2 linked regions of the Homo sapiens genome follow. The protein of the gene in region 1 purifies or fractionates together with the protein of each later gene. This does not show direct contact. Each region holds a gene or a part of one and is shown on either strand. Other genes may lie near its edges.

What was found.
Region 2: the proteins of SLCO4C1 (region 1) and HLTF purify together in Homo sapiens (affinity purification with mass spectrometry; 2 studies listed by BioGRID and IntAct, with this or other methods). This does not show direct contact.

The regions. Positions count from the first base shown.
Region 1 is NC_000005.10:102,293,267-102,300,611, reverse strand, and holds the start of SLCO4C1 (solute carrier organic anion transporter family member 4C1), read left to right. Parts: upstream 1-4,327; 5' UTR 4,328-4,349; coding exon 4,350-4,704; intron 4,705-4,967; exon of another isoform or gene 4,968-5,084; intron 5,085-5,812; exon of another isoform or gene 5,813-5,895; intron 5,896-7,345. UniProt on the Homo sapiens protein: Mediates the transport of organic anions such as steroids (estrone 3-sulfate, chenodeoxycholate, glycocholate) and thyroid hormones (3,3',5-triiodo-L-thyronine (T3), L-thyroxine (T4)), in the kidney.
Region 2 is NC_000003.12:149,069,519-149,076,544, forward strand, and holds part of HLTF (helicase-like transcription factor), read right to left. Parts: intron 6,530-7,026; coding exon 6,363-6,529; intron 4,831-6,362; coding exon 4,697-4,830; intron 3,805-4,696; coding exon 3,707-3,804; intron 2,140-3,706; coding exon 2,065-2,139; intron 1,926-2,064; coding exon 1,734-1,925; intron 1-1,733. UniProt on the Homo sapiens protein: Has both helicase and E3 ubiquitin ligase activities. Possesses intrinsic ATP-dependent nucleosome-remodeling activity; This activity may be required for transcriptional activation or repression of specific target promoters.

The DNA.
Region 1 (7,345 bases):
TAAATGTTGACATGTTTTTTTTTCAAATAATTATTATCAGCCATGTTTATGTATGTATTTCTTTTTCTTTCTTTCTTTTTTTTTTAAGCGATCAAGTCTTGCTGTGTCACCCAGGCTGGAGTGCAGTGGTGCAGTGGCGTGATCTTGGCTCACTGCAACCTCCCTCTCCCAGGTTCTAGCAATTCTGCTGCCTCAGCCTCCTGAGTAGCTGGGACTACAGGCACATGCCACCACTAATTTCTTGTATTTTAGTAGATACGGGTTTTCACCGTGTTGCCCCGGCTGGTCTCGAACTCCTGAGCTCAGGCAATCCTCCTGCCTTGGCCTCCCAAAATGCTGGGATTACAGGCATGGGCCACCGTGCCTGGCTTATGTATGTATTTCTTAATGATTTATGATGAATAAGATGAAAAGAAAAAGTACAGTTGCATTTCTTCTCAATATGATTATATATTTATGTGTAATTGCAATTTAAAACAGTATTAAAAACAATACAGTTCAGTGTTAATTTTTTTCTTAGATTTAACTTATTATTTTTAACTATATGTTTTGTGAAACATTTAAAACTGAAAAGATAAATCAATAATACTAAGATGGTCACTTAGATTGTCTGGTTGCTTTTATTCAGTTAATATAAGATGCTGTGATATTAATAAACCGTTAATACTAGGATTTGTAATTAACCTCAACGATATTCACATTTGACCATGTTTGTAATCAGCCACTGTCAAGATCCCTCTAATTTTAATATTCTATGAGCTCATAGTGTTATACTGCTAAAGGGTTCACATTTAGTCTAAAACCAGAAGGGAACTAATAAAGCATTAACAACACAGAGGGGAAAATGATAAAGTACTCAAGATAGGCATATCAATACATTTTCATCCAGTATACATATCTACATGGAAGGCCCAAATCATAAGATCGCTCTTAAGCATGGAATCAGAGCAAGGGGAGTTAGTAGGACAATCTTGATAACTTCTGTCATTAAGCCACTTCACCTTGTTTCATCCAATTCCTGAAAGGAAAGACCTACTGCACATCCCAGAGAATGATATCCAGAGGCAGGGACTGCTTCTGTTTACAGTGTGGGAGCCTTACCATAAATTTTGGACATTCTCTTTCTCCCATTCTCCACCCTTTAAAAACATAGCAAATAAAATGTACTATAAGAAGAGTAAAGTATCAATTACCTTCTGAAATTTAAGATGGTATATTTTGACTGTGTTCATTAGAGGCAGATTTAACCTAGATTGACCAAACAATTAATTTTAAAATGGACGTTTTTCCATAGAATTATCAGGGATGAAAACTAACAATTTTTCTTTCCTATTTTTGTTTTTTGGTTTTTGTTGCAAACCGAAGCCCCTTCCATCACTGCAGCATAAAGAATGTAAGGGAACAGGAAATTGAAACTTTCAGTAAGAGCAAGATGTATTTAAGATGAAGCAATAGTAATTTTGCTAATCTTTAACCAAAATTCTCTCTCTAACACTGTGAGAGTGGAGATTTCTCCTTAGTATGAATTTAAGTGCACGATGATTATGCTACTCTGATTTTGATAGTATAGCATGGATTTATTAAGTCACAGCTGCAAAATAGTCTTAAGCCATGATTGTATGTAATCACATCCCATCAAAACAAAATTTTCTGGTTGTGTAAATTACTTCGTATTCCATAGATAAAATGGTGATCAAAATAGTTACCTACTTTGAGTCCATTTTTGTAGAAAGCAAGCCCAGGAAGATTACATACCATGCTTAATTTGAATACCTCCAAAATCTAGGTTTTCAGAGCAGCATTAATCTTCTAAGCCTCACGAATATCACAGAATTTTGAATTTTGATCTCTTAAAATTGCTATGCAATAATTTAACCTGATGGAGATACACTGTAGTTATTAAAAGACAGAAAATGCAAAGTTTAGGGAAGACTTCTGGCTAAGAGAGCCGAGTTCAGATCCTTAAGTGGCAGTTCACTTATTAGCTATGTGACTTTGGGACAGTTACTAATTCTTTATGGGATATGGTTTCCTCAATATGTAAACTATATATAACAGTGCAGCTGCTTTTGTAAAGATTTTAATAATGGGGCATATAGCAGACATTTTAAATGTTAGCTCCTACTTCTACTCTTTCCCCATGTTTTAGGCCAATCTAGAATTTATTTTTATTTTTAATTCTTATTTTTTTGAGACAAGGTCTGGCTCTATGGCACAGCTGGAGTACTCATTGCAACCTCACCCTCCCAGGTTGTAAGCGACCCTCCCACCTCAGCCTCCCAAGTATCTGGAACTACAGGCGTGCACCACCATGCCAGGCTAAGTTTTGCATTTTTGGTAGAGACAGGGTTTTGTCGTGTTGCCCAGGCTGGTCTCAAACTCCTGGACTCAAGGCACCCACCTTGGCCTCCCAAAGTACTGGGATTACAGGCCTGCACCTCTGCGCCCGGCTGGCCAGTCTAGAGTTTTCTCGATTGTGAGGAAACAGGTAACAGAATGTACCTCTGTCCAAAGTAAGATACATATTTTATATCTGTCTCTCAACCCAGTAAACACAGCATATATAATTGAAACAAAAGTTTCACAAAATAGTATTTATCATATTATGTGCCATGTACTATGTATTATTACTGTCTGTTTCCTATTAAAACATAAGCACCATAAGGGTAGGGGTATTTGCCAGTCTTTGTTCACTTGTGTACCCCCAGAACTTAGAACAATGTTTGGCACCTAGGACACAAGAATTTTTTGTGTCTGTGTTAAGTGAAAGAATGAATGACTAAATTGTACCTACCATGACACAATGGTGTTAAGCTCTTCGAAGTGTTTTTCTTATTTATTCCACAGTTAGACATGTATTATTATTATTATTATTATTATTAAGAGACAGAGTTTCACTCTTTCACCCAGACTGGATTGAAGTGGCACAATCTCGGTTCACTGTACCCTCCACCTTCCGAGTTCAAATGATTCTCCTGCCTCAGCCTCCCAAGTAGCTGGGATTACAGGCCTGCACCACCACACCTGGCTAATTTTTGTATTTTTAGTAAAGACAGTGTTTCACCATGTTGGCCAGGCTAATCTTGAACTCCTGACCTCAGGTAATCCACCCGCCTCAGCCTCCCAAAGTGCTAGGATTACAGGCGTGAGCCACCGCGCCTGGCCCGGTAGAAATTATTTACATGATTGTCATCACTGTATATCTTACATATGCAATATACAGCAGAGAGACAATTTCTGGTCCTTCAGTTTCGGAGAAGGAAAAGCAAAGCAGTGGTTATGCTGTGATGTTCATCCTGGTGGTGATGGGGGTGGGGTGGGGTGGATTTCTTTTTCTAAGGAGGACTGAGGCAGGAAAATAGGGTCTGGAGGCAGGAAACATAAGGCCTATTCACACTTCAGCTGTAACAGGAAATATCCTCTCCATAGGGCGTAGGCCATAAATGACTTTGTAACTTTACTTCATCTTCTCCCTTTACATAGGGCATACCCAAAGTAACCAATGGAATCCTCTAGGGGGTATTTAAACTCCCCAAAATTCTGTAACCGGGCCTTTGAGCCCCTATGCTCGCCCGTTCCCACACTGTGGAGTGTACTTTCATTTTCAATAAACCCCTTCATTCCTTCCTTGCTTTGTTTGTGCGTTTTCTTCAATTCTTTCTTCAAGATGCCAAGAACCTGGACACCTTCTACCAGTAACAGGATGACAGGCAAGAGTCTTATCAAGATGCTCATGAACCAAAGTATACCTCTGACGTCTTGATTCTTGGAGTCCAAGCCTAGACTGCTTTGGTAAGCAGCAAAGGAAGAAAACGCAAGATAGTTTCCTGAACAATCTCCTGATGCAACTGTTTACAGGTTTCATGTCAGCACCCAAGGGGAGCTTATGGCCAGAGACTCCCACAGTCTCTGTGTGTTCCCAGTGCTTGGGCTCAAGGGAGGCGCGCTGCGGGCTGAAGGCTCAGGTCAGAACCGCAGGGGCTTGGGCGGAGGCGGACTCCGGTCGAAGGCTGTGGGGTGAGAACTCTCGCCCCCTCTACTCGGCCGCCGCCGGGTGGCACGCCCACGCCGCGCCTTCCGGTTGGTCCTTGAGGCGACGGGTGAGGCACAGCTGAGCGCCAAAGCCACAGGCTGGGGCGCTAACGCCCCCGCTCAGCGCTCTGCGCTCCAGACAGCTGCGAGCTGGAGTAGGAAGGTTCAGGCGGTGGCGGAGAGTGCGCTGGAGGCTGGAGGGCCAGGAGGCGGGAAGCTTCCCGCACGGGGGCGCTGTCACCTGCCTGTGGGAGGAGCCAGAGAGGGACCTGGCTCTGCTGCTCTGAAGCACCGGAGTCGGGAGAACCCATCCAGACATGAAGAGCGCCAAAGGTATTGAGAACTTGGCTTTTGTCCCCTCCAGCCCAGACATCCTGCGCCGCTTGTCTGCGTCGCCCTCCCAAATCGAAGTCTCTGCCTTGTCCTCTGACCCCCAAAGAGAGAATTCTCAGCCACAGGAGCTTCAGAAGCCCCAGGAGCCCCAGAAGTCACCAGAGCCATCTCTGCCTTCAGCCCCTCCCAATGTCTCCGAAGAGAAGCTCCGGTCACTGTCGCTGTCCGAGTTTGAGGAGGGGTCTTACGGCTGGAGGAACTTCCATCCTCAATGTCTCCAGCGCTGCAACACACCTGGAGGCTTTCTGCTTCACTACTGCCTCTTGGCCGTCACGCAAGGTAAAGTCCAGCGCCCGCTTGAGGCTCGGGCCAGTGGAGAGCGAGGTGGGCACGGCGAGCCAGCCGGGGGAGAGGGCAGGTGCGCGGGGTCCGTGGGACGGTGGACGCGCCCTGCAAGGTGGCCCCGGGTTTGGAACTTGCTTGCGCTCTCACCAAGGTCAACCTACCGGCCCCCAGCCAGCCTTCCAAAGTTCAGCTTCTCCTTTATCACTACAGTTCAAACTTGCAATACAAGCCTTTTTCTCTTTTGTGTTTTACCTCAGTTTAGCGGATTCAAGACTTACAGGGAAGATTACAAGAACCTTCCTTTGGGAAAGGTATACCCTGGGGAGTTTATTTTACATTATAAAGACAAAAATTTACCTAGGCACTCTTTAAAGGTATTTTACTTTTACATTTGTTTCATTGCCTCAGGGGAAGGAGTAATACGTTTGCAGGTGGGAGTGGGATGCCTTACAAGGAAGAAAGCTATGAAAAATCTATCGTATAAATTAGATACAGACATTCATGTTTTGTGAGTGTATTTAGTTTGAGAGTATGTGGTCACCAGAGGAGCCCAGTGAGTAAATTAGCAAAGGCTCCCGACGTTGTTGAGCCTTAATCTTCATTGTGTTACATTAGTTATCCAGCATCTGTTTTGTTCTAGGATCTCTTTTAGGTTCTCTTGGGAGTTACAGATTCAGTTCAGATTTATACCCTCAGGGGCTTGCAATCTAAGCTCAGTTTGGAGGAGTGATATCCTGGAGGGAGAACAGCTCCCTTGAAAGAAGGCACAGGGAAGGTTAAAGCTGCTTCTGGTGTGTTCAATACAGAGGTTGAAGGAAAATAGGAAGTTAACCTGAGTTGACTTTGAGGAAGGGTGGAGAAGAGGTGGAGAGGAGTCAAGAAGGACATGCCGAAGCTTAGCTGAATTGGAATGTAGATATTTTTTGGTCACTTGAGTCATAGTCCGAGAATATTTTCTGTATAATCAGTCAAGGATTAATTGGAAGAAATACAACCTTAGAAATATAGATTTTAGAGGGTTGGAAACAGCTCATTTTTTAAGTTAATAGAAAACTAAGTCAAAGCCTAAGTATACTTTTTGTTCTTATTCTTCCTCTTCAAGGAACCCAGGGCCCCTTGCTTTGCGCATTAGATGCTAAGTAACCATTTATTGATTGCAAGTCCGCTGCAGCTCTTCTACTGAAGGTAGATTTGTGTTGAAGAATTATTTCCCTGTCCACTTTTCTTGTCCCTACCAAAGTTCCCCTCCATTAATGTCTTGATCATAGTTTTACAAAATTGGTAATTGTGAAGCATCTCAGTGTCAAAGGAATGCGAAGATAAAAAAGTTGGACACAAGTAAAAAATGTCTTATCTTGTGTATTATCTTAAAATTCCTCTGAAATTTCTATATTATTCCAAAATATAACATTTTATATTTAATATAAAATATTGCCTAAAATTGTTATCAAATGTAATTGTCACTCCTAGAAAATTTGTCAGGTTTAGTCTGGAGCAGCATCTACCCAGAGGTCCCCAATTTAAGAAGCTTAATCTGAGATAATAGTGACCCAATAGGCTGGGCATGGTGGCTCACGCCTGTAATCCCAGCACTTTGGGAGGCCGAGGCGGGCGGATCAGTTGAGGTCAGAACTTGGATACCAGCCTGGCCAACATGGTGAAACCCGTCTCTACTAAAAATACAAAAAATTATGGCCGGGCGCCGTGGCTCACGCCTGTAATTGCAGCACTTTGGGAGGCTGAGGCAGGCAGATCAACTGAGGTCAGGAGTTCGAGACCAGCCTGGCCAACACGGTGAAACCCCGTCTCTACCAAAAATACAAAAACTAGTTGGGCATTGTGGCGCATGCCTGCAATCCCAGCTACTTGGAGGGCTGAGGTGGGAAAAACACTTGAACCCAGGAGGCGGAGTTTGAAGTGGACCGAGATCGTGTCATTGCACTCCGGCCTAGGCAACAGAGGGAAACTCTGTCTCAAAACAAAACAAAACACCACAAAAATTAGCCGGGTGCGGTGGCACACGCCTGTAGTCCCAGCTATTCAGGAGGCTGAGGCACGAGAATGGCTGGAACCCGGGAGGTGGAGGTTGCAGTGAGCCGAGATGGCGCCACTGCACTCCAGCCTGGTGACAGAGCGAGGCAAGGTCTCAAAAAAAAGTATAATAATAAAAAGTGTGACCCAATAAATTACTAGTTTACGTTTCAGTTTAAGTTTGAATGCCTGAAAACTTTATTGCCATGTTTCTCAAACATGATCCTTAAGATCATTTCCATGGTATATTTAAATATACATTTAATTGGAAAGAAAAACAAAATTTCTCGAATGAGTTTATTTAACCCAGCATTTCTCAAAGACAAACAGGGATTCTCTAAGTACTTAATTTTCTAATGTGCTTCCTATTGTCATTCATTTACAACAGAGAGATGTAGTATGGAGCGTTTCCTGATTTTTTTGTTTTTGTTTTTTTAAGTAGTGTTCTTGGAACTTGTATAGCATAGAATTCACTTTAAGAGTCATTGGATTAATGTGCTATCCTTCCTGAGGAGTTTACAAATTTTTTTTTCAAAGAGAAGTTTTACCATAAAGACAATTCTTTCTATTAACTAATTTTTAATCAGTATGGCAAGTGATAGGG
Region 2 (7,026 bases), on another chromosome or scaffold:
ATTAATTTTATTAAGTCTCATTACTTCAGTACAAATCTTTTTAATATTCTGTGTAGTGAAATGGAAACTACATATTAACTACTTCTGTTGCATATCAAACTATGAGGGTTAGCTAGAGAAAAATCACTCAAGATGGGAGTTATAAGCTCAACTAGTCACTTTTTTCATGCGACACCATTTTTACTTGAATGACAACTATCAATCACGACTGAGTGTCTGAAAGATACTTTCTAGAAAATGAACAAAGTGAGGCTGTCATCTACAAAGGAAACAACTGAGCTTGTCAATGATAAAATGTGAGTTTTCAATAGAAAATTAGAATGTTGGAAAAGTTGTGTGTGACACTATGAACATAGTGCCTTCCCAAAATGTAAATGATTTTCTAATAACATCAGTGGTAATATTAATGAATGTAAGTTTTGGATATTGCATATGAAATACATCAACATTTAGTAGGTCTGCCCAACTCAATGAACCAACATTTTCTAAATGAGCAATGCCTGGTGTTATAAAATCATACATGGGTAAAATATTCATTCAATGAGCAAGATACACAAATAGATTTTAACAAAACAGGGTATAAAAAGCTCACTGATATGATTTAGCGTTCCATATTACAACAATTAACCTTTAATAAACTAATATTTATTGAATTTTGATGCAGTATATCAAAGAAATCTGCAATTATCTAAAAAGCTATTACAATACTCCTCTCTTTACAGCAACATACCGTCGTAAGGACAAATTTTCTTCATATACTTCAACCAAAACAACCTAACAGAACAGACTGAATGAAGAAGCAGGTGAGAATTCAGCTGCCATCTATTCGGCCAAACACAGAGATGTGCAAAAATGTGACAATGCCAGTTGTTGCAACAAAAATGTTAATGTTTTGGCATAGTTATTTTTCTTTTAAAAATATGCTATTTATGTTAACAAGCAATGAGTTTGTACTGCTATCTTTAGCTACCACTGCCTAATACTATAACTACTGATAACAGCACACAAAAGCAAAAGCTCTTTGAAATCAGTAATTTTTATGAGTAGAAAGGGTTACTGAGACTGAAAAATATAAAAACTGCTAGTGTAAGGACACATAAGTATCTATTTAATACTCTGCATAACACAATATTTGTGATGGAATACAATTTCACATAACATTGTTTTGTCTTTACTTTTTAAAAGAAAACCTATGAAAGACAGGTCACCCTGAATTTCAAAGAGCAAAGAAAATTGAGAAACATGGCCAGGCAGGGTGGCTCACATCTGTAACCCCAGCACTTTGGGAGGCCAAGGCGGGCGGATCACTTGAAGTCAGGAGTTCAAAACCAGCCTGGCCAACGTGGTAAAACCCTGTCTCTACTAAAAATACAAAAATTAGCTGGGCATGGTGGCACATGCCTGTAATCCCAGCTATTTGGAAGTCTGAGACAGGAGAACTGCTTGAACCTGGGAGGCGGAGGCTGCAGTGAGCCAAGATCGCGTCACTGCACTCCAGCCTGGGTGACAGAGCAAGACTCCATCTCAAAAAAAAAAAAAAGAAAACTGAGGAACACATCTTTATACCACTATTTTAACTAAAAACTACAGGAAAAACTGTGTTCTACAAAGATAGTAAGATCTAGTCCCAAACTGGTACCAACATATTCCTATCTCTTTTTACTTCAAAATTACTTTCTAGAAAATCATAATCACAAAATTAGATTTTATTAACTAAAGAAAAAAATAATTACCAAACCCATATCATCAGCTAAAATTCCTCCATGGACATTTTCTGGTCGGTCCTTCTCAGAAAAATTTGTTATTGTGTTATAGTATAAGTCATTTCGCTGTTCCCAGAATGGTGGAAGTTCTTTGCTATTTTCCCGTGACACCATCCAAGCTAGAGCTTGTTTTTGATGTGGAAGCAGTGGTGTTTCAATAGCCTATAAATAAAAAGTCATAAAGCGAAATACATTAAGCCATTCCTTTTTCACATGCAGATCCTGTGATTAAACAAAAAGTAGATTCTAAGTATATTTAAACATTCTGAGTAGTCTTAAATAAAAAATATTGGTTCAATACCTCAGCTGGTTCCATTTCATGGGTTTTATCATCTTCTTTTAAATCTTCAAACAATTTGTCAAATTCTGTTTTAAGCTACAATAAACAGCAACAAGAAACAATGTAAAACAAACTAATTAAAATAATACTTGCATTTAAGTCAGATTTGAAATCATTTAATTAACTGGCGTTAATGTCAAACGGGCCAGGAGTGGTGGCTCATGCCAATAATCTCAGCACTTTGGGAGACCAAGGTGGGAGGATCACTTGAGCTCAGGAGTTTGAGACCAGCCTGGATAACATAGTGAGAGATCCCATCTCTACAAAAAAATTTTTAAAAAATTAGCCAGGCATGGGGGTGCATGCCTGTAGTTCTGGCTCCTAGGGATGCTGAGATGGGAGGATCACTTCAGCCTAGTAGGTAGAGGATAGAGTGAACCATGATTATGCCACTGCACTCCAGCCTGGGCAAGAAAGTGAGACCCTGTCCCAAAAAATTAAGAAATTGAAATTAAATTAAATTTAAAAACCACAAACTAGTCAAACGCCAAAAAGGCACATAAATCAACTCTAGAATTACACTACTCACTGAAGAGCGAATGAACAGGTGCTTTAGTTGTTAGGAGGTAAAAGAATATAAAAGAATTTTAAGTCCCGAGTTTCAGTCACAGTTTTATCACAAATAAGCTTATATGTAAGTTTCAGCAAGACTTGACCTTTATGGCCCCATGTCTTATTCCTATAAAATGAAAGGGATGAACTAAATTTAGATTGTCTCTAAGGTTCCTTCTGCCATTAAAATTCTGTGATGCTATCAGTTGTATTCAAAATATTTTCTCAGTCCTACCAGGTCAATGACATTCCATTTATTATTACTGCAATAAGGAACTTGCCATGCACTATAGGATACTTTTATTATTATGCTAACTTAATTGACTATTTAAACTAGGTTAGTCCAATTTTATATCAACATATATGTGATACAGATATTTTTGAAAATTAACACATGAACACAGCAGCAGCTCAGAAGAAATCAGGCCAGGTCTAAAAAATCAGAAGTAACCGGGGGCTTATCTACCAGAAACAAGCTCAAGTCCTTCTAACAATAAGCAGGGTAAATATGGTAACTACAATTAGTAGATAAAAGGACTAACACTGGTAGATACAAACATCAAAAAAGTTTTAATGTTATTTTTAAATTGATCTGCATTAATTACTTTATATACTTTTTTTTCAAAGAAATTCAGCATAACTCATCCTAAATTACAAATTAGACAATGTGAAGAATTTGGAGTTAAATCTTTAGCACTGCATTTGCAAAATTACTGAAAGGAGTTAAGTCTCAGCTTCAATTTTTTTCTTAAAATTACTACTTGAACATTTAAAACATTTCAGATACAAAAATATGCCGTGCATAAACAGGAACGTGTGTGTTTTGTATGTTGGGTACAAATGTTCACGTATGGATTTATTCCTTATCAGTACTTTTTATATAAAATGTTAACATATATATATTCTATTTATTCTATAACATGTTTCATTATAACTTAATATATTTGAAGACCACAAATACCCACACGTACATATTCATCCTGTTCTTTTAAATACAAACCTGCAACATTTAAAATTCACTTTTAGATTACAAAATAAAAGAGAAGCACACCTGTTCAGTTGTCATCTGTACTGCAGCATGCACTGGCATACTATAGCTTGGTCCAGCTCTTCCAGAGCCCCAACCACTTTCCAAATTGAATCCTAAAGCTATAATTTACAAAATAAAAAGAATAAAGCCATCAAATAAAGTAGGTTTTTATCTTTTATTAAGTAGCTTTTAAAATATGCATTAACAGGGCTGGGTGCTGTGGCTCATGCCTGTAACCCAAGCACTTTGGGAGGCCAAGGCAGGTGGTTTGCCTGAGTCCAGTAGTTTGAGACTAGCCTGGGCAACATGGTGAGATTCTGTCTCTACAAAAAATACAAAAATTAGCAGAGCGTGATGGTGTGCGCCTGTAGTCCCAGCTACTCAGGAGGCTCAGGTGGAAGGACTGCTGGAGCCCAGGAGGTCAAGGTTGCACTCAGCCACTGATCGTGGCCACTGTACTCTAGCCTGGGTGACAGAGCAAGACTCTGTCTCAAAATATATACACAAATAAATAAATAAAACGTGCATAACAAACTGCATTAAAAGCCTTGTATTTTAGAGGTATTTTAAAAGCTAAATACTAAATCACTAAAAAAACAAGTAATTCCACATTATTTGAACAAACTCTTGCCAAGCAATCCTTTTCATTCGCTATCAGAAGATTATTTTTGCCTAAAATTTATCAAAAAGAATGTTTAAAGTCAGGGGTTTCCAGATGTTACCATTAGGGAAAATTAGGGGAGGGTATATATGAGACTTCATTGCATATATACTTTTTCTTTAATTTTTTTAATATCCCCTCACTCTTACTGTGTATATTTTTATGTGTGAATCTATTTCAATAGAGGCAAAAGGAAAAATCAGAGATTTCCTCAAAAAGACTCCTGAAAAAAAGTTGTACCTTGGAGCCTTGAGCACAAATTAGCCAACAAACTCCAAGAGAGAATAAATGTTTCATAATCCCTGCATCTTACAATATCAGAATAATATTAAGTGAAACCCTAAACTTACTTTTTGGTGCAGGACCCAATTTAAATCCATGTTTCTTCAACTGATCTGAAACCGCTTTTCTATTTTCTTCTTTTCCCCAAAAAGTCATATGCAGAGGCATGGTAAAAGCATTGTTTGCACCAAAAGGAACTACCCTATTATATTTGGGAGAAAAAGAAAGGGAAATCAGAAGCATTACTTTTTATCCCCACTAAGAATTAGTTCAATATTTTAAGTGTATCATTTACATTTTACATTGAAGTAAAGTAATAAGGAACTAGTTGGGCAGACTTGAAAGAAAAAAAGGAAAAGAAATAGAACCATAAACAATCAGAAGGGTGATTTTTAGAAACAGAGTGCCAGAAAAAATTGAGAAAATGGAATAAAGCAGTTTTAAAAATGCAAGGATGGCCTGTAAACAAGATTGTAATATAAGTAAAATAAGTTAAATCAAAGGGTAGAGTTTGGCTAACGGAACCACTGAGGGTAGTAACTCATTCTGCTTGGAAAATGGGAAATGCAAGAACTTGTGATTCACTAAGTTATTCTCAATAACTGAAAAACCTGATAAACTGAAAAAGGAGAAAACAAAGTGAGACATTATGAGCATTTATTTTCTCTTCAAACTCACCTAGGATTATATGAATATCCTAAAAATTAGAATTAGAATATCAAGATCCTAAATATTCCAGATACTTAAATTGAGATCACAAGTACAAATGCCTAAAAGAGAAAAGGTAACTGAAAGATTGAAAGAGTTTAGAAAAAGAAAAAAGAAACAGGTGATAAAACTGGGAGAGCATATGCCCTAGCTAAAGGGAGAGTTCCAGTCAACTATTGTCATATGGAAGTGACAACTCATCCTGCATTGCCAGATTTCCCACTTGTCAAGAGAAAAATAAGTTTTTTGTATTTAAGAAAATAAATTAATATGTATAAAATGCGGACTTAGCTATTTCAATAATTAGTACTGAACGAAAAAATGTCTAAAACACTGCAGGGCAAAATGAAATTCACCTACATCATATCACAGAATACCAGTTTATAACCTCTGATATAAACAAACACTTCCAGGCTGGGCACGGTGGCTCACGCCTGTAATCCCAGCATTTTGGGAGGCCGAGGCGGGCAGATCACCTGAGGTCAGGAGTTCGAGACAGCCTGGCCAACATGGCAAATCTCTGTCTCTACTAAAAAATACAAAAATTAATTGGGCATGGTGGCAGGCACCTGTAGCTACTCAGGAGGCTAAGGCAGGGAGAGTTGCTTGAACCCTGGAGGCGGAGGTTGCAGTCAGCCGAGATCACACAACTGCACTGCAGCCTGGGCAACAGAGTGAGACTTCGTCTCAAAATAAATAAATAAATAAATAAACAAATAAACACTTCCAAATTCCTAAACCTAGGTACCAAAAGGTTTGGAGAAATGGAATGTACTTCCTAATATTTGAACCAAGGTCTATTTTCTCCATGGTAATAATTCCATAGGAAAATGAGAGGACAATTGTTTGATGGCTGGGGTAGTAGAAGTATGTAAAAGGAGAAATAAAACATTTATTTAACACGTACCAAAAGTACAGTGATAGAAATTGTTAGCATACCTTTATAGGCTCTAACAAGAAGCCCTAACAAGTTCAAAGATGACTATAATTCACAATTATTAAAACTAAATTCTGAAAGTACATTACCCTTCAATTTGTGCCAATTTGTTGTCCATGATATAGGCCAAAGCACCTGCAAGCTCTTTCTTTAAATGGCCAACTTGATTTCCATTCACATTGTTTACTTTAATTGCATTCTTATCATAAGGGTTATTAGGATCTCGTTGTAATGCAACCATTTCATTATTATTAACCTAATAAAAATGATAAACAGATAATATTACATTATAAATAATAGACAATAACTTTGTTATACTTTATCTGGGATTTCCATTCATTTTTTAATGCTACTGCTAAACACTGCACATAAGAAAAATATATTTTCTAGACACAAACTACAGAAATATTAATATATATTATTATGACTCCTTAATATTATTTTTCTAATCTATATTCATTAGGAAGTTAACAAATCCTTAATGTCTTAAAAAATAGTCAAATGTAAACTAGCAAATTCAAATTATCTAAAATTTTCAACATCATAACTTCTGAAAAATAGCCAACCCTTATTGAGCGCTTACTATGTGCCAAGCATTGGTCTAAGTACATTGCACAGACTGACTTTTTAAATCCTCACAGCTCTATTGGGAGGTACTATCATTATTCCCATTTTACAAATGAAGAAACTGAAGCACAGAAAAGTAACTTGCCCAAGGTCACAAAGCTAAAAGGTAGCAGAGCTAGGATCTGA